Linked DNA regions of Homo sapiens: regions 1 and 2 are each linked to region 3. The links come from fine-mapping of genetic effects on gene expression. A gene starts in region 3. Each other region holds a variant in brackets. All regions are shown on one strand. Distances are from middle to middle. Region 1 has its middle 4.3 kb from the start of BLK. Region 2 overlaps BLK (BLK proto-oncogene, Src family tyrosine kinase). Region 3 holds the start of BLK-AS1 (BLK antisense RNA 1).

Evidence for each region. PIP is the estimated chance that this variant, and not a neighbour inherited with it, causes the effect.
Region 1: its variant is fine-mapped to the expression of BLK-AS1 in blood mononuclear cells (TOPMed, PIP above 0.99).
Region 2: its variant is fine-mapped to the expression of BLK-AS1 in whole blood (TOPMed, PIP 0.93).

Annotation. Positions count from the first base shown.
Region 1 is chr8:11,486,281-11,493,951 of GRCh38, forward strand. No RefSeq gene overlaps it. Among named protein-coding and RNA genes, the nearest start is that of BLK, 4.3 kb to the right of the region's middle. RefSeq lists enhancers at 102-221, 5,889-6,038 and cis regulatory regions at 5,466-6,726, 6,800-7,671. The variant G/A (reference allele first, on the strand shown) is at 5,649.
Region 2 is chr8:11,506,268-11,517,341 of GRCh38, forward strand. All of the region lies in intron 1 of BLK (BLK proto-oncogene, Src family tyrosine kinase), which reads left to right. Among named protein-coding and RNA genes, the nearest start is that of BLK, 17 kb to the left of the region's middle. RefSeq lists enhancers at 536-595, 1,659-1,888. The variant G/A (reference allele first, on the strand shown) is at 2,559.
Region 3 is chr8:11,555,721-11,565,989 of GRCh38, forward strand. It overlaps BLK-AS1 (BLK antisense RNA 1), which reads right to left and starts at 2,545. Exons shown (of 5, transcript XR_948956.3): 1 at 2,170-2,545; 2 at 346-941; 3 at 1-142. It overlaps BLK (BLK proto-oncogene, Src family tyrosine kinase), which reads left to right. Exons shown (of 13, transcript NM_001715.3): 9 at 938-1,117; 10 at 2,242-2,318; 11 at 5,582-5,732; 12 at 7,259-7,390; 13 at 8,183-8,879. The coding sequence ends at 8,388. RefSeq lists enhancers at 2,715-3,004, 7,651-7,700 and a silencer at 8,981-9,080.

The sequences.
Region 1 (7,671 bases), 71 kb before region 3:
ACAGAGTCTTCGCCAATGCTCATCCTAGCTGACAGAGCTGCCCAAAGTCCATAGCACTGTGCCCTCCAGAGCCAGAGCCATCACTGCTCCTTTCCTGGGACCTGAGTCACCACTATGCCTCCCCCAGGGCTGGAGTCACCACCATGTGCATTCTTGCACCCCATCGCATTGTATATGTACCCACCAATCAGACCCATCACTAATGGTGGCCATGTGCCCACTGGCCAGACCTAGCATCACCATGTGCACCCAGAAATGGCACCTCTGCATGCCTTAGAATCAGCATCCCTGGACCTTGTGCCAAACCCAGCACTGCTCACGCCCTTTCCAGCCAGTGCCCTTGTGCCCACCCATAGGTAAAGGCCTTTTCCTACCAAAGCTGGTTTGTAAAGTCTGGAAGAGGTGGCTACTCCTTTATGTGAAGGCACAAGGCAAGGGTAAAAGGTGCACCAAAAAATCAAGGAAACATGACAGCAACAAATTAACACAATAAATATCTAGTGAATAACCCCCTCAAAATTGAGATCTATGAATTTCCTGACAAAGAATTCAAAATATCATTTTAAAGAAGCTCAGTGAGTTACAAGAAAACAGAGTTCCTGAACTCAGGAAAAGAGTACATGAACAAAAGGAGATGTTCAGGAGATAGAAATAATTAAAAAAAAAAAAAAAAAAAGAACCAAGCAGAAATTCTGGAGTTGCAGGATACCATCAATGAAATGAAAAATGCAGTAGAGAGCTTCAACAGCAGACTTGCACAGAAGAATCAGTTAACTCGAAGACAAGTAATTTGAAATTACAGTCAGAGGCATGAAAAAGAATTTAAAAAAATAAAGAAATCCTATGAGATTTATGGTATAGCATCAAGTGAAACAAATACACATTCTGTAAGTTCCAGAAGACGAGAGAGAGAAGTGAAAACTTACCCTCACTTCTAATTCCTGAAATTTCTGGAGATTCTGTGATGAAAATAGAATCTTCTCTTTTCTTTGTTGATAGCTAGTTTTATCAAGCCCATATTTGGTTTCACTGATTATCTCTTTTTTTATTTGTCTTCTATTTCATTGATTTCTGCTCTAATTCATTAATTTCCTTTTACTTACATTGTGTTTCACTTGTTCTTCTTTTTCAGTGATTGTAGACCAACCTTGTATTTTTTCTAGTATTAATATTTATAGCTATAAATTTCCCTCTAATTTTTTAGCTGCTGCCATAAAATTTTATGTGCTATACTTTCATTTTGACTCAGGTCAATGTGTTTCTTAATTTTTCATTTAATTTCTTCTTTGGGGTTATTTAGAAGTGTGTCATTTAATTTACACCAAACAAATTTACACCAAATAAATTTAACAAAATTATTTCTGTTATTGATTTCTAATTTAATTCCATTATGGTTGGAGAAGATACTTTGTTTAATTTTACTCCTTTTATAGTCATTGAGACTTTCTTTAAGACCCTATGGCTTACATAGGGTCTATCCTGGTGATGTTTTATGTAAGCTTGAAAATAATGGATATTCTGGGTGGATTGCTAATATATGTCAGTTTAATCAAGTTGTTTGATAATGTTGTTCAGATCTTTTTTATCCTTTCTGACTTTCTCTCCACTTGTTCTATCAATTACTGGAAGAAAATTATCAAAATCTTCAACTATCATTGGTATATTGTGTATTGAACTTTTTAGTTCAGTCAGATTTTGCCTCACGTGTTTTAGGACTTTTTAAAAAGGTACATGAACATAATTTTGACAGCTCTGGCTATTGCTTGCTCTTTTCTTATTATGAAGTCACCCTTTTTTCCCAGTAATATGTGTTATCTTAAATTCTATTTTGCCTGATATTAATATAGGCACCCCAGTTGTAATGTATTTATTGTTCACATGGTATGTAGTTTTTTTGGATCCTTTTACTTTTAATCTGTTTGTCTTTGAATTTAAAGTTTATTTTTTGTAGCCAGCATAGAATTGGGTCTTGCTTTCTTTTCAGTCTAACAGTCTTTGCATTTTGATTGGAGTGTTTAATTCTTTTAAATTTAATAAAATTTTTTATGTTTGGATTTAGATTTAGAATTTTGTTATTTTTTCTACTTGTCATGTCTTTTTTGTTCCTCTATTATTCTTTGACTAGTTTTATTATTTTATTTTTAATTTATCTTTGAGACAGGGTCTCACTCTGTCACTCAGGCTGGAGTGCAGTGGCACAATCATGGCTCACTGCAACCTCTACCTCCCAGGCTCGAATGATCTTTCCATCTCAGACACCTGAGTAGCTAGGACCGCAGCTACTCCCGATTAATTTTTGTATTTTTTGTAGAGACAGGGTTTTGCCGTGTTGCCCAGGCTGGTCTTGCACTCCTGGCTCAAGCAATCCTCCTACATTAGCCTCCCAAAGTGCTGGGATTACATGCGTAAGCCACCATGCTTGGCCAACTACTTTTATATTAAAATATTTTTAGTACACCATTTAAATTCTTCTGTTTATTTTTTTAACTCTGTTTCTTTAAATCTTTTTTCCTTAGTAGTTGCTGCAGGGATTACAATATGCATCTTCAATTTATCATAATCTACTTTAAATTCATACCGATTTACTTTTTTTGGTGAAAAATAAAAACTGCACAATTATAGCTTCATTTCTTACCCTCCCTCCTCTGTGCTGTTATTGTCATGTATATTCTATTTGTACATATGCCATACTGTGTTATAAACCCACAGTTATAAAACCACAGTATGGCATTATAATTTCTGATTTAAATAATTGTGTGTGTGTTTTAAAATAAGACAAGAAAAAGTAATGTATACATATACATTTTATATTTTTATTATATTATATATTTTCACTTTACCTACATGCTTACCATTCCCAGTGCTCTTCTTTTCTTTCTGTGAACTGGTTTACTATCTGATATTAATTTCTTTCATTTTAAAGGACTGCCTTTAACTTTTCTTGTAGTGTAAGTCCAACAGAACTAAATTCCCTGTTTTGTTTATCTGGAAAAATATTTATTTCACCTCAATTTTTGAAGGGTAGTTTTATCAGATAGTAAATTTGTAGGTGAAAGTTCTTGTTCTTGTTTTTGTTGTTCTTTCAGCACTTTAAACATGTCATTCCACCACCTTCCAGTCACCGTTATTTCTGATGAGAAGTCAACCACCAATCATGTTGTCTTTAATGTGATGTATCTCTGTTTCTCTCTCTTTCTCTTAGTGCTTGCAATGTTATCTCCTTTATTTGGCTTTTGGCATTTTGACTATGACATCTAGGTGTGATTCTCTTTAAGTTTTTTTTTGTTTTGTTTTTGTTTTTGTTTTTTACCTTGGGTTTATTCAGTTTCTTGACTCTGTAAGTTAATGGTATTTACTCACATGGAGACTTTTCAACTTTTTAAAAAAATAATTGTTCTGTGCCTCTTTCTCTTTCCTCTCCTTTTGGGACTCCTATTACATTTGTGTTTGAACACTTTATATTGTCTGGCAGGTCTCTAAGGCTCTGTTTACTTAACTTTTCGTTCTCTGTTCTTTGGATTGCATAACTTCTGCTCTATCTTCAAATGTACAGCTTCTTTCTTCTGCCGTCTCAGATCCGCTCTTGAACCCATGTAGTGAATTTTTGTAATTTTCAGCTGTAGAAATCCCATGTGATTCCTTTTTTATAATTTTCATCTATCTATCCAAAGTATCTATTGGTTCACTGTTAACAAAATTTTCTTTAATTCTTTGAACATTTTTCCTTAATTCCTTGAGCATAGCTATAACAACTTCTTTGAAGTTGTGTCTTAATCTACTGTCTGTGTTGGTTTTTCTGGTCACACTTTCCTGTTTCATTGTATGTCTAGTAATTTCTGGTTGAAAACTAGACATTGCAGTGATTCTAGACTCCATTCACTTTCCTAAAAGTTGTTGGTTTTCTGTTTTAGTAACTTTTCTGGACTTAAATTGCAGAATTAATCTCCTCCATGGTGTGCAGCCACTGATACTACAGTGCAGTTTTTATTATAATATTTTTCTTTGTTTTTCAGTCTGGCTCCCTAAAGGTGTCCTCTATTCTTGTATTATATGATGATGAGACAATTATTTAGACAGAAGTTATGCTCAGGTACCTTGAACAACTAAGCCTCCCATCTTCTGCTGCCAGAGCTGTGTGTGGCCGAAGAAACACATTCACATGTACAAGTCCTCACGGAAGGTGGGAGGGTGAGACAGGGGTGAGGGTTGAAAAAGTACCTATTTGTTCCGATAGGTACTTTTTGTGGCAAAACCCTGTCTCTACAAAAAATACAAAACACTAGCTGGGTGTGGTGGCATGTGCCTGTGGTCCCAGCTACTTGGAGGCTGAGATGAGAGGATCACTTGAGCCCAGGAAGTCAAGGCTGTAATGAGCTGTGACTACATTATGGCACTCCAGCTTGGGGGACAGAGTGAGACCCTGTCTCAAAGAAGGAAAAAAAAAACTACCTATTGGGTACAATGTTTACCATTTAGGTGATGGGCACACTAAAAACCCAGACTTCGCCACTATGCAATATATGCATTGTAAGAAACATGCACTTGTACCCCTTAAATACATAAAAACAAATAAATTTTAAACTAAACAAAAAAATTTTTGCACATCGTCAGGTCTCCCTTGGCTCTCACTTTTTGCTGCCTTTTTGGGTTTCTTCCCTAGTCAGAGATGTGCAGGGAGTTTATTGTCCCAGCCCTCTCATGGCTTGCTTACTTCCAAGTTCTCATCACAATTCTGGCTGATCTCCTGTCTACCATGAAAAGAAGCTATAATCTCAAGCCAGTAAAGCTGCAGATTTTTATTTTCTCCCTAGAACTGATTCCATGAACTTTAACCCATAAAATGCAGATTCTCATCTCCCCCATCCCAGACCAAATCTACCAACTTCTGCTGGTATAGCTACTAGTTTTCTTTTTATCTATTTATTTATTTAATTTATGTTTGAGGTGGAGTCTCGCTCTGTCACCCAGGCTGGATTGCAGTGGTGCGATCTCAGCTCACTGCAACCTCTGCCTCCCGGGTTCAAGCGATTCCTGTGCCTCAGCCTCCCTAGTAGCTAGGACTACAGGTACCCACCACCACACCGAAATAATTTTTGTATTTTTAGTAGAGATGGGGTTTCACCATGTTGTCCAGGCTGGTCTCGAACTCCTGACCTCAAGTGATCTGCCCCGCCCTCAGCCTCCCAAAGTGTTGTGATTGCAGGCTTAAGCCACCGCTCCCTGCCTAGCTACTGGTTTTCAGTGACAGCCCTCAAACCAAGTCCACCATTCCCATTAGGTAACCTGTGCTTTTCCTCACTCAGGCCAGGGGCTGGGGAGCTTCAGGCAAGATGTCCGTAGACTCATGGCCATTCTGATGCAGGCCATTTTTAAGATTAAACACTTATCAGATCATTGTCTGCTTTTGGTTTTTCTAGTACCCAGAAACAAACATTTTCTAGTACCCAGAAATTGTTGTTTCTGACAATTTTGTCTAGTTTTATACTTGTTTTCTTCAAAAAGAAATTGGCCAACTTCTTAGACCCTTCTGAGGTGAATCTTGGACTGGATTGGTTTTATGTTTCTTCCACTTACTTTATTGCCTACAGCTTTTGATTTTGATCAGAGATGTACTGATATTAGGAGGCTGGTGAAGGCACATGGAAGGA[G/A]AGCTGAATTTTGCATAAGTCACCTCAAATGTACAAAAATAAATGGCAGAACCAGTGATGCTGAACGCTGAACTGGGCGTTTCAGAGCTAGGGTCTAGTCTCAGTCCCGCCTTGAGAAAACCGCTTTGAGGTTTTCTACCAAAAGGCTCCCCAGCCTCCCCTAACAAGTGTCACTGTTCCCATCTTCTCCCCGGGGTCCTTTCCCCACCTCTCTTCCGCCTTTCTCATGGGCCCGTGACTGTGAGGGTGAAAATGGCTGAAATTAACTTTCACTTCTGCTCAGACATCTGGAACCCATGAGCAAAGTCATTTCCTTGTTTTCTTTCTGAGTGGCTGCTGGAATCGTGTGTGTGTGTGTGTGTGTGTGTGTGTGTGTGTGTGTGTGTGTGTGTCTGGTATTGTTATTTTCCAACCTCTGTCTGTTGGGGTGGGCATAAAGGTGATGTCTTATCACAGATCACATAAGGGCCAGCACACCTCCCTGCAAACTCTCACATCCCCTCCCACTCTAACCTTGGGTAGACAGACCATGTATTTTCTTTGTAGGATGCTGGGTTTCCTGCTCTCCACTACATTCTCTATACCCTCAAGTCCAAGTATATAAAAGTTGTCCAAACGTCAGCTATTTAGGCCCTATTGAAAAAATGTTAGAGGCGGTTCAGGCAGCGTCACAACATCCTGGTTCAGTAAAAGACTCAGCCTAGGGATCTGTCTCTGAGAGTCTGTAGGAGTCTTAGTCACGAATCATGTTCAAAGCCTTCTCCTTGGCAGCTTCCCCCAGTGACCCCTGATAGAATTATTGCCTCCGCCTCTGGTCTAGCACTGTGCCCCGTTGAGGCCTCTGTGGCTACATCTACTACGCTCCACTGCAGTGATCTGCTTATCAGGCCCCTTCTCCAAGCTCCTTAGGCTGAGACTCTCAGAGGAGGATGGAGTGTAGCTGCGTTGGTATCCCCAGCCTCCAGCAGGTGCTTAGCACAGAGCAGGTGTTCAGAAAAACAGTGCTGCATTAATTGAATTGAAATAGGAAGACTAAGTTACCTCATCTCAAATCAGTCACTTTTTAAATCAGAAGCTCGCAGAGTTTGGAACTCATGTTTCATGTTTGGATCCATGTAGTAGGTATCAGGAAGTGAATGTAAGAGTAAATTAACAGGAGCTGCCATGGACTGAGCAGGCCCAGGGTTCTGGACATTGTTGTGAGCCCTCTGCTACCACGTGGAGAAGATCAGCTTTGGGATTTAAAGCAATTAGCCACATTCACATCAGCTTCCAGGTATTTGCAGTTTATTATGTGCTAAATACTGTAATAGATACTTTTTATGCATGAATCCATTTATTCTCACAAAACCCCTTGGGGAAGTGAAACAGATTATTTCCATAGTGTCTTAAAACCCCAGAACTCTGCGTTGCTGCGTCTATTGACATGAACACCTGTCAAACCTGCAACTCATAGCTCAGTATTGTCTCAGTCCAATCCAAGGAAATGAACTCCTTGAGAAAGCTGACATTCTGGACCATGGGGTAGAAGCTACCCTGTCTGCCTCCCACACCCACTCTCAAGGATCCAAGACTATGAAGGGAGAAGAGAGAGCCCACCGAGTGACTTCCTCTTATAAGCCAATATCAAGACACTAGTGGAAAGGAACCAGCTGACCAGTGGCTCACTGTGTCTGGCTGGACCAGCAAGACTCTGACGTCATCACAGAAGCCTTCTTGGTCCCATTGGTCCTTTGACTGCTGTGTACAGGATGCCACCCACCACTCCAGACACCACTCACCACTCTAGATGTTGGGATCCTTCTCCCGTTACCTCCATTATTCTTGTTCTCTACTCCTCTGAGTTTTCATAGCCAAGCAAATTTCCACCATTGAAGAGGCTCTGAGATCCAAGTCAACTAACTACTGGCTAGGGTACTGTAAAACACATGGGAAATTAGCTTTTACCAAACACCAATTCTATGCCCACCATTCATACCCATTCTACCATTTAATGCTGATAGTATCCTGTGAGCTAGCTATT
Region 2 (11,074 bases), 49 kb before region 3:
CAATGCCAGGGCTTTTTGCCTTCCCAAGGTCACAGCCTGAAGACACTCAGAAAGATGTAGTTGGCTCATTTATCATTTTTTAGAAAAAAAGAAAACAACAGAATGTGCTGAATCCTTGTAACTGTTGGCCATGGCACTAGTTTCATGGAAGGTGGAAGGGCAGGTTAGGCTTCTTATGAGGGCGTTCCTGGCCTCTGGAGGGGTGTGGGTGGGCTCAGGTGAATGACTGACAGACTGGATTTACGTATGTTGAGTGTGAATCTCAGTCCACAGCTTGGTGTGCAAAAACAGAAAAGCTATCTGGTAATAGCTACATCTCTGTTGGGGAGAGGAAACTGACCTCTCAATTCAGGGTCTTCATACCTTTCTCCAGGGTGGGGTCTAAGTTCTGGGAGCCTCATGAGTCTCAGGAATTCTGGGGTGGCCTATTTGGTCTTTGTCATCAGTCCATGCAGGGGGCTGCTAGAATGTCATGTCAGCCTCTGACCCTGGCCAAGCCCCCTCTCAGAGATTCCAGGCCACATCCCAGGTTGAGGGATGCATCCTCCCACTCTGGGGCCCCCCAGGTGGGACTCTCAGGGAGGCCACTTGAGACGCGGTTGCCCAAACTGACTCAACAAGATCTCTCAGTCACGGGCTGAAAGATCTGCATCACGGGCTGAAAGCAGGAAAGTTCTTTTGTCTCTCTTTCTGCTTTCCTGTGACAATGGGTGCAGAACCATCGTGAATGGTTCAGGTGCGGGTAGGGAAAATAACAAATAGGAGGAAGAACAATCTCAGAAAGGCAGGTAGCCTGTCCCATCTGCTGACAGAGCAGTGTGTAAGCATCACTGAGCTTGTGACATTGATGTTTTTTCCAACATGCAGTATAAATGTACACTGTGATTTTACAAGGCCAGGAGCCAAGTAACAACACCCTTGGCAGAGGAAGAGTGAAGTGGGGAAGGAAACTGAAGCGGGCTAGGGAGGAAGGACAGCTTGACAACTAGTTAGAATTGGAAGGACGATGGACTAGGATTGTAAAAGAATAAGGCAGAATGTCCTACCTTCCCACCTTGGCAAACCCTGCCCCTGGGAGTGGTCCTGGATTTGCAGTGGCCCTGGCCTGGACCACCATGTAGATGTCACTAATGGATCCTCCCAGGGGACGGGCCTGTCATGGCCCTCAAGAAAGGCAGGGATGACCACCCCAACTGCAGGGGAAGACACCACCCACCCTGAGGGCTTTTGGGAGCTTTTAAAAGAAGGCAAGTCACGCTTTAAAAGAACTTTGAAGAGACAGGAGCTTAGTGGACCCAGTGGAGATAAAAGGTCCAGGTAAGGAGTGGCCAAGCACTTGGAATTTAGAAGAGGCGAATCAGAAAGTCCCAATGGACCAGCTTGGGGGTTTGGGGGTTACTGGGTCCATGTCAACATACAGCTCAGTGGGTGCCAAAGATCAGCCAGGCCTAGGGTGCAGATGACAGTGAGGCAGGATGGTGACCTGGATTAGGACTGGAGGGGGAACCTGAGGCCAGGAGAGCAGGGAAGAGATTGCTAAAGACAGTCACCCCATGGCAAGCTAGTTTTCTCCCCGAGCCAGCATTTCTACACGTGAGCACTGGCCTTGCTGTCTGGCTGGGTGACTTCCTCTCTCTGGGGTTCAGGGCCCAGCACTGCTAATCGGGGGTAGAGTCAACGGCCTTCCAGTGCACCCTTTGGTGGCTCTGTGTGGCACATCAGGCACACTGGTCAAGTAGGGGGTCATCACCAGGCCTTGGGTGCTTCTCAAACCTAAAGTCATGTGGTCCTCACAACAGCCCCGTGATGTCATCAGGAACCTGCCCACTGGCCCAGGGCTGGGAAGGACTAGAGCCAAAGTGCAGGCTCAGGACTGTTTGACCCCAAAGCCAGTGCTCTGAACCCTCCATCTGTCTTCATTAACCACCGCCTCTGCCACTACTGTAAGGCAAGAGAAGCGTGTCACGGCGCGAAGGCTAAGCACATGCTGGGAAATCACCCGTGGCTTGCAGACACATGCACAGCTACTGGGGGTAGATCAAGAGCCAAGAACGGGTGAGCTCAAGCTGTGCTCACATGGGGCGCGTGCTAGGTGACTGTAGGCCTCAGAAAACCTGGGATCCAGAACAGCTTTCCTCCGCTAGGGGGCTCTGGCACAAGTTTGCCTGAAGACATGGCCCCATGGCGAAGCCATCATGTGTGGGACCTTCCTTGGCCCCCTCTTGGTGAGCCACATTCCTGTCCACGCAGTAGCTCCAGCCCCCACCCGTGGCTTTTCACTTCTTCCTTGCTTTCCACTTCTGACCACCCTATACCAGAAGGTACTTCATGTCAGTCCTCTCCCGCATTCCCTCTGCCTTCGGGTCTCCTGGAATTGGAACTGTCACTAGTCAATCATTACTTACGGGGATGTGCAGAAAGCCAGACACTGTGCTGGGCCTCGGGCGGCAGAAATAAGACAGCCACTGTAGTGTCAGCTGTGTGCACCCATCTCTCCTTCTGACCCAAACGCAACTGTGATGGGGGCCGGTCCTGCCCTTTGGGGCCATCAGACAAGG[G/A]AGCAACTGACATTTGCAGAGGCCAGAGGAGCCGTGGTGGAGGGGTTTTCTCAGGGCTCGAGGGAGGTGCCTGCCCATCCACTGAGAGCTTTGGGAAGGAAATGCTGGGCGCCTTTTGTGCCTCCTACTCATCAATTCCCCCCAGCTGCAGGCAAGGGAGGTCGTTAGCAGCCCAGCCTGTGGGGAGCAAGCAGGCCATGAGCTGCATGCAGCTGGCACTGCTATTACTTAGGAGGCATCACAACAATGACTCAGGTGCTGACCATAACCCTTAACCAGGTCACAGTGGCTGCCTAACTGTTGAAGCTGCTACCCCTCCTTTAGGTTACACCGCACGAAAAGTTGGCAATCCTCTCTCTCGGTGGCTGCTGTGGGAGCAGCTAACCTCACAGCACCCGAAGGGATGTCATCGGGACCCCAGCTCGGTTTCCAGCATCAGCTGATGCCAGCAAGAAGCCAGCCAGGCCTGGGGCTTGGCAGCCCAGGGACTTTACCATCCACCATCCACAGGGCTGTTGCCCTGGACAGGTCATTGATATCTGACTCACAGCCAATTCATGGATGACGTGAATCCAAAAATCAGAGGCCCACGTGGATTTAGACATGGAAATGCCTCACCAGCTTCCATGAGCCAGTCTCTGTGCGGCAGACTTGAACTGCACGGGGGCTGATAGGAAGCAGGGTGGGCGCTGGGATGTGACTGCGCCCTTGCCAGTGTTTCCAGTCTCCCAGCTCGGGTTCTGTGGTTGTCTAAGCCTGGGGGTGCTCTGCCGGGTCTGTGGCGACCCGGCTGCCTTTTCAGCCTAATCACCAGAGAAGCCACAGAAAGAGCTGGACCACTTAGAGGGGCAGTCTGGCCACAGCCACTTGGAAGAACAGGCTGATTTTGTACAGATGTGTCATTTTCTCCTGACTTTTAAACTGTAAACATTATATAATACCCTAGAAAATTTTGAAAATAGATATAAACCATCAATAACACTGGCAACCTAACACTTTTACCTAAGAGCTACCCATTTTGATTTATCTGATGCGCAGTTTTCATTGCTGGAATCATAAAGACATAGCACCTTAGATTCTTCTCTTTTCTTTTTCTTTCTTTTTATTATAACATAAGCATCTTTCCCACTGCTACTTTTGATCACTTTTGAGGACTCAAAATGATCATTTTTGGGCCTGCATAATATTTCACTGTGTGAACTCTATCACCATTTCAATCAGGTGTTTCGTTTGCTTCCATATTTTTGTATCACCATAGCAGGTGATGATTGAAAAAATAAATGCAGCTTGCAAAGTCATTCTGAATTACATCGTGGAGCTGGAGAGTGTTCTTTCCTAATCCCTTCAAGGAATTACGATGATATGGGGAGATGAAACATTCATTTGGGGGCTGGCGTGGGGTAAGCTTTAAATTGCGTTTAAAGTCAGTGTGATAGTGACTTGAGTTTTTCATCTCTTTTCTCCAGCTCCTTGACGGCCATATTTGCTGGCCAGGGTTACTGGTGTGGTCTTTGGCCAGAGAGCAGACTTTCCTCTCTGTGAAATGAAATGACTCATAAGGAAACAAACCCCAAGGCTTTGGGTACATTTGTCCCATCATCTAAACCAGGGTTTCTAATCAGAAGTCCATGAATGATTGTGGGGCTTTGTCGGGGGAGAGGTCCTGAAGCTGAGCACAAAATTTGGCATGTTTGTGATAAGTGTATTTTATAGGGATAGTGTCTGTAGTTCCATCAGGTTCTCAACGGGGGCTGTGGCCCCAAAAATGTTTTTTAAAAAACCCAGCTTTCTCTCTCTGTCTCTTTCCCCCTTTCTGGGAATCCGAGATTGAAATGAAAGAAATCGAAAGATCTTTGCCTACATACAGAGGTCCAGTAATGGGATAGGGAATATATTATCCCCGGGATAGCGCCACTGTACTCCAGCCAGGATGACAGAGACTCCATCTCAAATAAATAAATAAATAAATAAATAAATAAATAAATAAATAAATACATAAATAAAGTGCCTCTTTGTTAAGGCAGTTGCTTCTATTTCTACTTTTTTAACCAAAGCTAATTGCTAATGTGTTAAAGTACGAGATTCTGCCTTGATTATGGCCGTCCGTGGTTCTTAACTAAAGGAAATGCTTTGGCATTTTAAAACACATGGATCCCCGTAAGCTTTGCATTTCTCACCAGGGAGTCAGACTGACACACAAATATTTGTGGTTAGTTAATTGTTCTTTCCTGCTACAAACACTCACCATAGGAGGTGAGCTGTGTTTACCAAACTGAAATGTTACTATTTGAGGCTGAAGGAGCCAAAGAAACCTTGAAATTCAAGAGACCAAACCCAAAAGTTCCACCCAACGGAGTGGGAGACTTCAGCTCATTGAATTCCTGAATACAGCTCGGTCTTTTGTCTTCACACAGCAATGAGAACACATGGACACAGGAAGGGGAACATCACACACCGGGGCCTGTTGTGGGGTGGGGAGAGCGGGGAGGGATAGCATTAGGAGATATACCTAATGCTAAATGACCAGTTAATGGGTGCAGCACACCAACATGGCACATGTATACATATGTAACAAACCTGTATGTTGTGCACATGTACCCTAAAACTTAAAGTATTAAAAAAAAAATCAGTTTCTGTTAACAACAAACTCTGGCACCAGTCAGCGGGTTTGACTTCCTAAAAAAGTTTGATTTGCTTTCTCTCTTAGAAATTCTGTCTTAAATTTCCTTAAACACAAGTGTGTATACCTGGAGCAAAGAACATGGGGTGTAATTCAATTTCTCTTCTCCTTTCTTCCTCTGGGAATCTCTGCTAGGTTTCCCACTTATTATTGTTGAAAACTAGCAGTCTTTAAAGGGGATGGACTTCCTGAAATACGGCAAACAGTCATGCAACAAAAAGGAGAAAATTATATTTTCATTTTGGGCGTCTTAGATGTAGTGCAACATTCAACATGAGATCAATGTGCCCTCTTGACCCCAAAGTATTGGCTAATGATCCATAATCAATATTTAGGATAACACTGGTTGGGAGTATGAATGACATCTTTCCACCATTGTCTTGGTAAATGAAACTATTTACTCTTTCTGGCAGTGGATGCTGTCGGGAGGTGGAAAAGTAAGCATTTTCTTACGTTTGGGTTTTCTGTGATTGTTTGATTATTTAATTTATTCGTTCAAAGAAGAGAAAGATTTACTGCATGTCTACAATGTATCAAGTGGTAAGATGGGGCCTGAAAATACAAAGATAAACAACCAAACAAACAAAATGGCTTTTCCTTGAAGAGCTCAGGAGGAGTCTGGTTTAGAAGGCAGACACGCAAGTTCTATGCTACTGGTCTGTAAGAAGCGCTGTGGGATCAGAAGAAGGGATGACTTAATGGGTACAGAGTTGGTGATGTGTGGATGACCTCGTGAACGAAGACTAGTTCTTCAAGCAGACCTGTGGAGGACACCACAGAAAACTGTGTTGTTTGTTTAGCTCTTTTCCAGAACTTGTTATGATCTCTTAACAAGGTCTAGCCAATATCATTATAAGCACGTAAAATTCCTCATCCTAAACCCCACCCTGAAATCACTCTGACGACATGTCAGCCATCTGACACAGATGTGGATAGTCTGAAAGCCCAACAGTTCTAATCATTTAGGTTCAATTGGGTCTCAACAGAGATTTTTACATGGGACTTCATGTTTTACAAATTATTTTAGTATTATCAATTTGATCCTTTAAGGCAGGCAGAAAACATATTTCCACCCTCTACTTTATAGATAAAGCCATTGAGGCTCAGAGAGATTTTAAAATTTTACTGCAAATTACACAGGCTTCTGGTTTTGTTTGTTTGTTTGTTTGTTTGTTTGAGACAGAGTCTTGCTCTGTCACCCAGGCTGGAGTGCAGTGGCACAATCTCGGCTCACCGCAACCTCCCCCTCCTGGGTTCAAGTGATTCTGCTGTCTCAGCCTCTTGAGTAGCTGGGACTACAGGCGCCACCCACCACCATGCCCAGCTAATTATTGTATTTTTAGTAGAGATGGGGTTTCACTGTGTTGGCCAGGCTGGACTCAAACTCCTGACCTCAAGTGATCTGCCCGCTTCGGCCTCCCAGACTGCTGGGATTACAGGCGTGAGCCACCGCGGCTGGTCAGATTATTCAATTTTAAGGTCTTACGGGCCACATAACATGATTGCCTTTCTAAAAGAATTATTTATTCATGGAAGTCTGAAGCAAGAGTCTCTTGAAGTTCTTTTTTGTCCTTGATAAAATATTTACTTTTCTTGTTTTATCCTCCTACGAGATCCCTACTGTCCATGCCCACGGCCTAGATTGGTCTCTGGCCTTGAGCCTTACAGAGCATGCTGGGTCCCAGGGCTTGTCCTCAATGCACCACACGCAGTTGGCTGATGAACTAGGACCTCTGTGTCTTGAAGTGGGAGTGGATGGTAGGAAGGGGGAGATGGAAAAGCAGGGGTACAAGGCTGATGCTGGCAGCAATGAAGACCTTGGTGATTCGTGGACCATAGTGGAGACTGAGAGGGAGTGGAGAGACGAAGAGAAACCAGAGCATCATTCCTGATGGAGCCCTGTGTTACCCCCAGGCTCCTTTAGGGCATGAGAGTGCCAGGGCTGGACCATCTCCAGGCTGCACACTTTTTCTCTGCAGCTGTGAGCAGAGCCCAGGCTGTCTGTCCCTCAGCATCCCCTAAATCTGCGATGCAATCATAGCCCCTGAATGTTAGGGCTGGAGGCAACTCAGAGATCATCCACCCACAGCCCTCGCTGCACAGAGACAGAAGCAATGAGATGAAGTGACTCGTACAAGATTGCACCTTGGGCTGCAAAATTCATACCAAGTGATCCAGGGAGGCCTTTGAGGCATTGCATTCCCAAAGTGCCTTCTAAATAGTTAGCCAGAGTTATAGAGTGGTGCTCAGAACAGGTTGTGGACGTTTATTGAATTCCATGTGATTTAAGTGTGGTTGGCGGGCAGTCCACACCACCGCCGCGCACTGCATGAGAACCCTGTGTGAAGGGGGCTTGGGGTAATGGAGCAGCTGGGCCCGACCCAGGTGGATTCAGAGTCTCCCATCACTCGGAGAAGCCTGCACCTTGGAAATAATTCAACTCCTTGGTCTGACTTTTGCAAGGGAAATGTTTGGGGCATTTTATAGGTCTCCATGGCTGTGGTGTTTTATGACATTGAACCCAATAAAACTCGTAATGACACAGGATCTGCCAAGGGGATCGGACCTTCCCTTCTGGCACAAGGAACCATTCTGTTTTGGTATCCCAGGAAATGAGTGGAGGAAAATCCTTGTTATTTCAAGTGAACAGGGTCTGGGCAAGGTCTCTGTCCCTGGTCACCTTGACCATGTGCTACCTGTCACTGAGTCTAACGGTTGCTCCAATTCAGCTGAAAGACAGGACTCAGCAAATAGAGCCTTGATCTGTCCACAGGGTACTCCTGTCCACTGTTCCAGCAAATGTGAGAAAACCCACTTGTCCTTTGCGAGAGAGAGGCAATGCTGTCTTAGTCCCATCCTAAAGGCAGAAGGACGCTAAACAAGGGTGTTTGCGGGCTACAGGCAAGAGCCCCGCAATGGCCTCCCCGAGGGATCTGAGGCCCAGCAGGCCATCCCAGGTCTCAGAAGCCTTGTAAGAGCACAGTGGAGGACCCTTCTTGCACGCTGAGCTCTGAGCAGTGAGGGGAACAGCTGGGAGAGAGGCTGGGGTACAAGTGACACAGTGCAGAGATGCTGCTCCCAGCCGAAGCTGCCACTGTGGGCCTTCTCCATCCACCCAGCCCCTGTGATTGCACTGCCCCCACCTCTGGGCTCGAGTAGCCCGTGAGCCTGCTTTCTGGACCCATCCTGGCAAGTTGCTGGTGGATATACCTATGCAGCAGGGCAACTACAGGCTTAGGAGGGCTCCATTCCAGCCCTGGCTGAGCATCAGAATGGGGGTGAGAGGTAAAAAATACAGATTCCTGGCCCTGTTTCATACTTTCTGTATCATATGCAGGAGCCCAAGAAGCTATTACAGTCCCAGATCATTTCTGATCCAACCCACCAGTCAGCAATACCTGCTCAAATCTAGGAGTCACTGACCTCAGCCCCCTCCCCTTCCTGGGGAGCTCCCACTCCAGGGTTGAGGCACGCACATGACTTTCACCTCTTCTGGAGTCCTCCCCTCCACATTCCCCGACAAGCTGCTGCTCTGAGATTCTTCCCCTAGTCTCTCCACACAGGCCAGCAGTCACTGCAAACGCCCAGTTGCAATGCACCAAGAACTTTCAGGGTTTTGCCCTGTTTTGCTGGTTGGTGCCAGGAGATGGAAGCTCTCGAGTGGGGTGTGCTGTCCCCTGGGCTGGGTGGAGGTGGCCACAGCAGAGAAGGAAGATGGGTCCTGGAAGTACAGGCGGTCTGGGCTTACATCCTCCCTGTGCCACTCCCGGCTGAGGGACCTCGAGCAAGCTTGACCTCCGTCAGTCTTCATTTCTTTACCTGTAGAGTGGAGGTCTGGAAGCCGGCCTCCTGGGATGCTTTGAGGATGACCAGGAGCTGAGAGGTAGTGCCAGGGGTCAGCCATGTCAGTGGCTCCACCTGAGTCCTCAGGGCCTGGGGGAGTGTCTGGGACGAAGTAAGCAGCCGGCGCACAGGGGTCCTCCCTGCTCCCCTTTAATTGCTTGCGTCTCTCTGGGGCATTCTTTTACTGTCTTTGGCTTCTTCCTTTGCTGCAGCCCTCATCTGGATGCCTGCCTCTATTTCCCCCTTCCTTCCATTTTCTTTAACTGCATTATTTTTCTGTCTTTAGAGGCCAGTCACTTACCTCCTTAATTTTCAAAGTTTTGTCTTTTCTAATATTGTATCAGTGCTTAAAATGCAATTTTCCCCGCCACTGTAGTGCCTCATGTCATATGTGCTGCGCTGCATGCGGGGATGGCCCAGAACAGCTTCCTGCAGTCTGTGTTCTTCAGAACAGTGGCTTCAAACAGGAAATCAAACAGGGAATTGCTTTAGTTGTTCATGAAATCAAGTGGGCTCCTGCTGGCATTTTAAAAACAAAATCATATAGAATAGAGAATACCCAGGGGCATTGCCTGTAGGAAAGGCTTTGGGAGGCTTTTGTATCCTGGTGTGGGGATGGGTGTGCACTCGCGTGCCTGGGATGTCAGGCACTGTAGATGGAACAAAAGTTCATGCCCAGATGAACTGATAAGCAGATCGTGGCCTGTACATTCCATGGAATACCACTCAGCCTTTGAAAGGAAGGAAATTCCTTCACATACTGCTACATGGATGAACCACGAAGACATGACGCTAAGAGGAGAGAGTCAGACACAAAGGAGAAACACTGCAATTCCATTTAAATGAGTCCCTGGAGTAGTCCCATTCAGAGAACAGAAAGTAGAACGGGGGTGCGAGAGCCTGACGTCTTTCTCACTGACAGCCACAGTAACAAAGAACAGAAAGCCCGACAGACACTGTCGTGGATGCTCTTAGACCACACCGCACAGTGGAGACTTCACAGACCCCGAGTCCTGCACTTGGTGGGTGGGTCTCACGACCGCCCTTCCCCCTTGCGGTGCAAAGAAAGTTCACCGCCCTATTGCTGTCTCTCCCAGAGGATCTTTCTGACCTACTCAAGGAACATTTATTAATAATCTATTGAGAGAAAGACAATCTAGTAGGTCTTATGCATTTTCTATCTTCTCCCATTTTTCCATGAACGATATCTGTTATAGCAGCCCTGTTAAACTAACTCCCCGACCCAGCCCCCAGCCCCTGACACCTGTTACTCTACCATCTGTGTCGATGAATTGGGCTACTTTAGGGACTTCATTTAGGTGGAATCATACAGTGTTTGTCCTTTTGTGTCTGGCCAATTTCACTTAGCACAATGCCTTCAAGGCTCACCCATGTTGTAGCATGTGCCAGAATTTCCTTCCTTTGTAAGACTGGATTCCATTGTACATATAGCCCACACTGGGCTTATCCATCCATCTGTCCATGGACACTGGCTGCTGCCACATTTTAGCCACTGAGCAACACTGCTGTGGACACAAGTGTACAAATACCTGCTCAAGTCCCTGCTTTCTGTCATTCTGGATACACACCCAGAACTGGCATTGCTGGATCATATGGTAATTCTATGTTTAATTTGTCGAGGAGACTCCATACAGGACTTTGAATTTTACTCTGAATGAGAGGGTGACACTGGGGAGTTCTGAGTAGGGAAGCGATGTGATGGGACCTAACATTTTTATAGGGTCACAGTGGGCTGCCTTTGGGAATAGGCAGGTGGGAGGACAGGGAAGAGGAGAGCAGGGAGGAGTTGCTGTGTGTATCCTGGAAAGAATGAAGGTGGCTTAGACCCGGCTCTCGGCCAAGGCAGAGAGATGTCCATTCCTGGCTGCCTGTGGACGGGAGAGCCAACAGAAATCGGGGTTGCATGTGGATTTGTATGTGCAGAATACGAGAGAAAGAGCATGAGGAAGAGAAGATGGAGCTGCCATTCACA
Region 3 (10,269 bases):
GCCCCGAAGTCGCTCCCTCCTTCGTTCTCTGCCTGAAGCTGGCTTTGACAATGAGCTGCAGCGGCGCGTTAACTCCCCTTAGCTTTTCATCACCCAGATGGAAACAGGAGGTTAAACGTGATGAGCCATGATGTTCCAGAGCCTGAGTGCACACCGAGGGCAGCCGTGGGACTTTGGCCAAGTCACTGAAGCTCCAGGCCTGGTGTCCTCACATTTCCATCGCTGCTGACACCTGCCCCCTTCCCCCCCCCGCCCACCAGGATATAAAACTCGTGTTCCGTTTTATCCCTGGATTGGTCCATGAGTCCTCCCTTACCTGGGGCTGGTCCATGAGTGCTCCCTTACCTGGGGCTGATGCCCACGGTGCTTTTGGCAGGAGCTGTACCCAGGTCCCTGCCAAGGCCCATGTCCTCTAGAAAAGCAAGTAGAGTTGTCTTTTGCCCTTCAGGGGACTTCATGGAGTACAGGGAGAGTGTGGAGATACAGATAGTTTAAGGAGTGGGACAGGATCGCCATGGGGCTTCAGAAGGAGGGAAGGAGACCCCCATGCGTCATCCTCCTGCCCAGTGTACCCCAGGCTGTGTGCTTATTTCCACCAAGGAGTTATTGTGTGATAGAAGAGACTCATTATGTAGGGGAGGGGTGGGGGAAGGACACAGGTTCCGTGCAGGACAGAAGGACACAGGCCCAGGGTGTGGGGCAAATAGGTGAAATGCCCCCCAGGCAGGGTACATTCCTCCACTGCCTGAGGCCCCATATAGAAGGGACCTGGAACGCAAGGTAGGCACCACACAACCATGGCCTCCGGAACTGCATGTTCCAGCTCTGGCACCTGGAATGGGGTGGCACCTGGGCACTTACCCCGATTTTGGTTAAGGGATCACCTCCGAGCAAGCTCTCTGTCTTCTGATTGGCTTCTTCACTCCCCCGGGCTCAGGTTACTACAAAAACAACATGAAGGTGGCCATTAAGACGCTGAAGGAGGGAACCATGTCTCCAGAAGCCTTTCTGGGTGAGGCCAACGTGATGAAGGCTCTGCAGCACGAGCGGCTGGTCCGACTCTACGCAGTGGTCACCAAGGAGCCCATCTACATTGTCACCGAGTACATGGCCAGAGGTGGTGCCCCCCGCAGAGCCGCATCCTCAGAGCGAGGCGGGAGGGCCGGGCTTAGCAGGAGGAGGAGGGTCCGCTGCGGTGGGTTCACCAGGCCAGGGGGTCCTGCAGATCTAGGGCATGGCACGGTGTGGGGACAGGGAGGGATGGAGGGAGGGGGAGGGACAGAGGGAGGGTGAGAAACAGGAGGGTGAAGTGGTTCTGACAGAGCCATGTTCTCAGCCCAGGAGCAGTTCAGACAGCATTTCTGGAGTGCATCTTCTGTGCCTAGCACTCTTTGATGCCTGCTGGGAGGGACAGAGCATTGCAAAGTCAGACGAACACCAGGCCAGGCATGCAGGGACAGTACTAGATCCAGGTCTCCTGCCTCCTGGTCATGCAACCATTTACAACTGTGTGAATATTTTACAAGGATGGCCAGAGAGGTTGGGCTTGATGGCCTCTGAGGTCCACGGCGTGGCCAAGTTCTCATGCCACTTTCTCACCCTCCTATGACCCTGACCGCACACTGCTCCTATAGGATCCTAACATGCCCATGTTGATATAGCTCCCTAACAACTGTCACCAAGGGGCCCCCGGTCGGAGGCTGTGCTGGGGGTGCCTCTAGCCTGCCCCTAGGGCAAGCATCCATCCCTCCCAGCTTTCTGATTCCAGGGGGAGCTGCATTTGTCCCCTGCACCAAACCTGGGGGACAGTTCTCTCCATTCTGGTGCTTTCTTGCTGATGCCTGGTCCTCAGAGGCAGAGGGTGTCTGCCAGCAGGGATCAAGGGAGCGAGGCCAACACGGGGGGAAAGACAAGAAGGGGCATGAAACTTCGAGTCAGAACTGGGGTCCCACTCCCAGCTCCCGGCTGGGTGACTTCAGACAGGTCCCTGCACCTGGCTGAAACCTAACTTCTGGGCAACTGCTGGTATATTGGCTGCCTCCCGGGGTGCTGAGACTGGCATTTTGTAAAGTGGAAGGCACTCGGCAGCAGTAGGTAGATCCTTCCTGATGCACCGAGAGATCTGAGGGTGCAAACTCCCACTTCCCGCGCCCATGGGGAGCCACTCACACCAGAGAGAGGCTGGCACCACCAGGGGCGGGTCACTTTGCAGAAGGGCACTTGCAACTTCTCTTTTCTTAGGATGCCTGCTGGATTTCCTGAAGACAGATGAAGGGAGCAGATTGTCACTCCCAAGGCTGATTGACATGTCGGCGCAGGTTGGTGAAGTACCAGGTGCAGAGAAAGGGCGGCATGTGCCACCTGCTGCCCACAATGGCTGCTCGTGCCTTACCACCCCATCCTCTCAGCCAGCAGGAGAAGTCAGGGGGTACTGAAGGCCACCTTCCTCTAGGCAGATATCCCCAAGGTCACCCACTGCACTTGGACTTGCAAACCCTGGCCACTGTGCCTCCTGCCCCACGCAGCTGTGAGGGAGCCCAGGGAATGGAGCCTTAGACCCGGGCTGCTGTGTTGGAATGAGGCTATTCTGTTCCGAAGGAAGAGAGGGCGAATGAATGTCATGGGAAACACACAGAGTTAGCAAGAGTTCCATTGAACCCGGCAGGCAAGTGTGTTCTGTTGTGACCTCATCTCTTCCTTAGATGGTGCCCACAAACATCTCCTGTAGGACTTCCCATCCCAGGGGCCCTCAGCCTTTGCACAGCCCTGGCGTCGACCCCAGGCTGATGGGCAGGCCTGAGCTACACACAGATGCCAGGGACATGACTTCTCTGAGCCCTGGAGGACAGCCCCACCTTCTGCCACCAGGGAATTGCGAGTGCTGGACCTCCTTGGCTACCCAGGACTGGTCCTCAGTGTCCCTCACGTTCACATGCAGAACTTTCTGGACTCCATGGGGTGAAGAGCAGAGTGGAGAGGAGGGTTTTAGCCGAGAGCTCTAGCTGGCAGGAAGCACATCTGGTGGCCCTGTTAAAACTGGAACTCTCAGCAGAAAAGTTTTGGTCTGTGGTCAGCCTGTGAGGCACACACGTGCGTACACATACACACACACATACAGCTGCCACCGAGAGGAAACGCTCCCACCCACCGCCCACATCAGCCCTCCCACCTCGCCCCTCGCCCAGCCTTACCCAGTAGCGCCGCTGCAGGAACTGATGCCACAACGCCTTTTTCCGCTGAGGTGGGCAGACAGCCATCTGGGCAGGCTGGTTTTGGAAAATGAGTGCTGGTAACCGGCTTCAAACCCCAGGGCAGTGATAAGCCTGCCCACTGCTGCTGCTTCCTTTCCCCTTCCTTCTCTCACCCTCCGCTGTCTCCTATTCAATCCCCACTACACCCCCTTGGGAAATCTCGTGTGACCCAGGGGCAAAGGATGTGAAAAGCCATCGGAGTTTAATACCTGGATGTAGCCACAGAATCGGGGGTGAGGAGCCAGAAAATCAGAACTTCCCAGAAGGGCAGCCTCTAACCACATGCTGACCATGCCAATGGCTCTCTAAGCACACATGTACACACACACACTCTCACACACATAAAAACACAGACTCACACACACACGGACAAACACAAACACATACACAGACTCACACAGACACGCAAACTCACACACAGACAGACACACACACAGACACACAGACTCACACACACAAACTCACACAGACACACAAATACACAGACTCAGACTCAAACACAAACTCACACAAACACATTTACACAAACTCACAAACTCACACACACAAACACACACACAAACACGCAAACTTACACACACATGAGCAGACACACACCCGGCCCTTCTGGGCTCTTCTTTTCTTACTCCATAGGAAGCCATGCAAAGTCTCGCCAGACCTTTCTTCCAAGGCCAGATCTGGCCAACCCCACAGGAACCCTGCAATCACAATCCCTCGGGCCCCACTTTGCAGCCAGATGCCACCGGTTCCCATGCCCCATGCCTCGCCACCCCTCTACCTCCTCTGCCCAGGAAGCCTTGAACACTTCCCACCTGGCAGAATCCTTATCATCATCCATGGCTCAAGCGTAATGTCATTTCTATGAAGGTTTCCCTGGACAAGAAACTGCCAGAGAGCCCTTAGCTCAGGTGTTCCCGGAAGCACTGTTCTTGCTCAGCAGATCTGGGCAGCTTCTTCTTGAAAGCAGATCTGGGCCCTACTCAACATTTTTTAAAATATATTTCTGGTACTGTTCAATAAATATTAGTTATCAGAACGAGTACTGTTAGATGCTGCCCAGATATATTTAGTACTCAGTTTTATATTCCCCACAGTCCCATATTAGTAAATGAGTATTGATTGCATGGTGTAGCAAGGGGATGGATGGATGCATGGATGGGTGGATGCGTGGGTGGGTGGGTGGGTGGGTGGGTGGGTGGATGGATGGATGCATGGATGGATGGATGGATGGATGGATGGATGGATGCATGCATGGATGGATGAATGGGTGGATGGATGGATGGGTGGGTGGGTGGGTGGATGGATGGATGGATCCATGGATGGATGGATACATGGAAGGATGCATAGATGGATGGATGGATGGATACATGGATGGATGCATGGATGTGTTGATGGATGGATGGGTGGGTGGATGGATGGATGCATGGATGGATGGATGCATGGATAGATGGATGGATTCATAGATAAACCAACAAAATGCAAGCATAAGGAGAAGTGGAATCAATTCTAGTGCTGGCTTCTTGAAGTCGCATGTCTGAAGAGGTAAATGGGGTCTCTGCTTTCTGCCTCAGTTTCTTCGTCCATTGATTGGGTGAATAAAGCCTTAGTTTCCTCAGCTAAAAGGTGCCAAGTAGCACCAGCTGCTATCCCTGGCCCAGGCTGGTGATCAGGGGAGGAGAGACAAGTCTCTTCTTCTTCACAGCCTCTGTCCACCTGGATCTGCCAGTGCTCCCTGGGTGCCCCCACGGGGCAGGCGCTGGGTGAGGTTCTTGGTCACAAATCAACCTCGTCTAATGCTTGCCTCAACCCCCTGCCCTGGAGACCACATCCCTCATGTTCCATGTCAGGACTGTGGCCCCTCGGGGAGGTTAAGCAGCTTGCTAGAGGTCAGCGACTTCCCGAGGGCCTCCAGCTCCAGGAGCTGTGCTTCCAGCCAGCCAGTGAGAGCTGCCTGTCCTTGCCTCCTGCTCCCCCTCCCCCTCCTTCCTTACCATTTCTTCTCTTCTCCCTCCCTCTCCTTTTCTCCTGCCTGTGTTCTTCTATCTTCCATCTCTGCAGACCCTTGGACACAGCTGTGTGGAGCGAGAACGAGGAGGGGGAGGGGCACAGGTAGCCCCTGTGTCTCTGATGCCCACGTTGCTGCGTTGCTGTTCTGGGCTTCTAGGAGAGGAGTTTATTCGGCTGAGGAGCAACACAGTCACCTTTCTACTCCATCCAAGAAACAGCTCCTTCCCCAGCAGCCCACAGGGGCTGTGCGGGGGACACAGTGTGGGCTCGGTCTTGGCGTGGAGGCCCCCAGGCTGTCCTTCACCATGTGCCTGTTCCCTCAGATTGCTGAAGGGATGGCATACATTGAGCGCATGAATTCCATCCACCGCGACCTGCGGGCGGCCAACATCCTGGTGTCTGAGGCCTTGTGCTGCAAAATTGCTGATTTTGGCTTGGCTCGAATCATCGACAGTGAATACACGGCCCAAGAGGGTAAGCACAGCCCCTAACCACAAGGGAAACCTAGGGCCTTATCTTTCCCAGCTCCTCAAAGCCGCCTTTAACTTCTCCCAGCACAGCCCTGAGGGAAGACACCTGAGGGCTATACGGTTTCTACAGCTCTAGATCAGCATTTCCTTCATTTACCCAAATGTGTTCAGCAGAATGGTAGTGCCCTGAGACCTCCCATGGAGGAACAGCTTTAGGATAAGGTAGGTTTGGAGAAACAGCAGTCCACCCTACTCCCTGTCTTGGAGATTCCCAGTGCACATCAACATATTAAAGGCACTGAGAAGTCCTGCAGCAAAGAAACAGTTTATGTTTGCCTCACCTAGTGCCTCCCAAACTAATTTGAGCTCCAAATACTATTTTTTTTTTTTTTGAGATGGAGTCTCTGTCACCCAGGCTGGAGTGCAGTGGCACAATCTTGGCTCACTGCAACCTCCGCCTCCTGGGTTCAAGCAATTCTTCTGCCTCAGCCTCCCAAGTAGTTGGGATTACAGGCGTGTGCCACTACACCTGGCTAATTTTTGTATGTTTAGTAGAGATGGGGTTTCACCATGTTGGCCAGGCTGGTCTCGAACTCCTGAATTTAGGTGATCTGCCTGCCTTGACCTCCCAAAGCGCTGGGATGACAGGTGTAAGCCATGCCCAAATACTATTTTTATATAGTCCCTATTAACCTTCCATGGAATTAGGCTTTCACAGAGCACACTGTGGGAAACACAGCTCTCATGTGCGATCAGCAAACCAACCTGTATTAGGGTGTCCACGGAGCACTGTTTTACTCTGTGCATATAACTGAGGTGGAAATCTACGTCACAAGAGAATCTGAAGGGGTCACATATATTTATCAAGCTAGCAAGCAGTGTCTGCTGAGCCTATGAGTCAGATGACAAGCAGACAGGATATGGCTTGTTCTCTCGGGAACTTCAGGCTGGCTGGGGAGACCGAGAAATGGAGGCCAGGGGAGGCTGTGAAGTGCCAAGCCCTGAGGTCTGCTCCAAATGCTGGCCGGGGCTGCAGCCATTGAGGTGCTTCACAGGGCAGCCGGATGTGAGTTCTTCCTCATAGCGGCCCTCGGAGGTACAAGTGTCACCATTTCCATTTTGCAGGAAGGGACTAACGGAGGCGCCCGCAGGTTTAAATGGCTTGCCCAGGCCATGTCTTTTAAATTAAACAAGGCCCCTGTAAGGTGAAACAGGCCCCTTCCATCCCAGGTGGAAACGTGGTGGCTGCCCATTGAGGCCATCGCTCTCTTTTTAAAGAACCAAAGTGGGTGACTGTGTGGTATTGGTGTCCATATCGTCTTTCTGTGCTGCTGATGTCGTGTCTGCACTCACCTGGTCATGTGTCCTGGTGTGCGGTAGTGGCTCCCCCGCCATGCCTGGCCGCCCCGCCCTGTGAGGCCCCGCAGTGGGGGCTTGATGGAAGGACAGCAGGAGCAGGGGTAGGGGTGAGGATGGAGGGTAGGGGCCACCGGCCGTGGCCTCCCAAAGCTTGCATGGCTTTTCCCACAGGGGCCAAGTTCCCCATCAAGTGGACAGCCCCGGAAGCCATCCACTTCGGGGTCTTCACCATCAAAGCAGACGTGTGGTCGTTTGGAGTCCTCCTGATGGAAGTTGTCACTTATGGGCGGGTGCCATACCCAGGTAGGTGGCTCACCCCGCAGCTCGCGGCTCCCTGCTTTCCCGGCCGGCCCTGATGGCAGGTCGCCTGTGCTTGGTGCCTGTGGCTGCCCTGTTCTTTTCAGAGTGAGTCCCAGAGCGAAGACGGAGACCCAGGCATGGCATCTGGGGTGGAGCTCTGCCCCCTGCATCACTATTGCTCTGGGCCACAGGGCTGTGTCTCCTTCCTCCAGCAGAGGTCAAATGAGTCCCTCAAACTGAAATCAAGACAAAGGGCACATCCGAACTCAAGTTTACTCCCAGTGGCTTGTTCTCAGTTGAGGACAGGTTGTGCCTACCTTGGCTTTGCACCCATAGTGGATTCCCCAAAGCCCCTTCCTGTGTGGCCAGAATCGTGGACGACAGCCCCCAGCCCCAGTCGAAGGGCTCCAGCCACTTGGCCCCCACAGGTGGGCAGGCTCCGGGTCACCTGCTGCTGTGTGCACCTGGCAGCTGCCCATGAGTGATGGGCTTGGCTGTGCCCCTGGTGGTCACAGGTAATCAAGAGAGGGAGGGTCCCATCTTCAGAGGACCTGCCCCGTACTCAGGAGAAAATCTACAGCCTCATTTCTAGGCATTCCCCAGGCAATAAAAAGTAAATAAAGGGCTGTTTAGAGACCGGGCAGCCAGGCAACGCACGAGGCTGGAGAAGTGGTCTGGGACTGTGGGCACTGCTGTCCCTTGCCTGGGCCCACTGTGCCCCGCGGGACGCTCAGGGCCCCCCACCCACCGAGGACCCCAGCCCCTCACCCCCGCTTGCGGTCTCCTCTGCCGCAGGGATGAGCAACCCCGAGGTCATCCGCAACCTGGAGCGCGGCTACCGCATGCCGCGCCCCGACACCTGCCCGCCCGAGCTGTACCGCGGCGTCATCGCCGAGTGCTGGCGCAGCCGGCCCGAGGAGCGGCCCACCTTCGAGTTCCTGCAGTCGGTGCTGGAGGACTTCTACACGGCCACCGAGCGGCAGTACGAGCTGCAGCCCTAGCCGGCCGCGCCCGCCTGCGCCCCGTGCCCACCTCTGCGCGGACGACCCCGACTTCCGTGCCATCCCAGACGGGCCGCGAAGGCGGGGTGTCGCCTGTGCCCTTTTCTCAGACCCGGAATCCAGTGGGCAGAGGCAGCTTCGCAGGGGGTCCCCGGACGGACTCCTTCACCGACTGCACCCCCGGGCGAGTTACGCGGCCTCTCTGTGCCGCTTCATTTGTAGAGGGCTGTAACAGTGACCTCGCACGGTCATCCGGAGTACTAAGCCCCAGTAAGGTGTTCAGGACTGGTAAGCGACTGTCATCAAGTAAGGCCCCCGTGCTGGGCACCCCCCGTGCTGGCCGCGTCCCCGCCTCTGCGCCCTGCGTGGACCCCGCCCTGCCCCGCTACAGAAGCCAGACTGGGTCCCGCGGACGCCAGCAGGGGCAGCCCCAGCCTAGGCTGCGCTCCAGCACTGCGGGGCTTTTCTGCAATAAAGTCACGAGCGTTCGAGCTGTTCCGTGTCGTTACCTGTGACAAGCTGGACATCGCGTGCAGGACGAGCACGGGGCGCAGGCGTGGCGCAGCCAGGGAGTCCCGCGTGGTCTGGGCTCCCGGCGGTTGAGCGGGGCCCGCAGGGGGCGCTGTGGCCTCATAAATCCGTGGCTCGGGCCCGCGCCGGGAGCTCTGGGCGGGGAAAAGCCAGGGGCTGACGCTGTGGGCCGGCGCTTTGGGGACGGCTAGGACGCGAGCCCAGCTCCAGAGGCTCCGAGTCCCCAGGCCAGGTGCATAAACAAGGATCGGGTGACGATGGGGCGTAAAAGCGAGGAACGTCGGCGGCTCCCACTACATGGAGGCTCTTCACTTGGCATGTTTTTGTTTTGTTTTTAATAGACCGATTTTTTTTTTAGCAGTTAGGTTTACAGAAAAAAAAAGTGGGAATTAAGTAGACAGTCTCCATATCTCGCCCATTTCCCCTATTACTAACATCGTGCAATGGTGGTGCATTTGTTATCACTGATGAGCCAATACTGATAAAATATCATTAACCGAAGCCCACCTTTTGCATCCAGGTTCTCGCTGCCTGTTGTACATGCCGTAGGTGTAGAGGAAAGTGCAGAGACTTGTACCTACCGTTCTGGGTCCCCCACTTGAAAGCCCCCTGGCTCCACCTGTGCACCCGCTTCCTTCCCCTTGAACCCTTGCCACCCAGCTTGTCAGTGTTGACTCCTCTGACTGTGAGAACACCCCGAGGTAGGACTATACCCACCCGCAGTACAGAGGTGGAAACTGAGGCAGAAAGTGCTCACACACACCCCTCTTAAGCGGTAGGATGGGGGCGTAGGTGGGGGAAACTGCAGGTCTGGGCAGCAGAGGATTAGAGTGGGGACTTGGTGGGAGAACCCCCAGAAAGGGGGCAGTCGCTGCAGGGGTGCTGGGTGAGGACAGCCACCAGCCAGGAAGGATGCGGTTCACATAGCGTGATCACCTACAGTGTGTGGATTCTCCAGCAGCCTGGGGTGGGTGCATCACCATTACTACCACGAAGCTGTTTCTGCAGATGATGAAACGGACAGACTCCATGCCACCAGGCTCCTCTCAGCCAGTTCTTGGCCCTCACAGCCCCCACTGACCGTGGGCAAGCACTGGATGGGAGCACAGCACTTTAAGGAGGTCTGGGGGGGGGCAGACCTGGGGCCTCGCTGAGGAGCCCAGAGGGACAGGTGTCCCCAGCTGCTCCAGGATGCTGGAGGTGGAGGAACCTAGAGGTGGAACTCTGTCCCATACAGTGGGGCTCCAGAAATTGTGGGGCCTCTGATCTCCCCCAGGACCTGGTCACACCGGGGTGCTGGAAGGAGGAAACTGCCTGGCCAAGAACCTGGTGCCAGGGGACGTGGCTGGT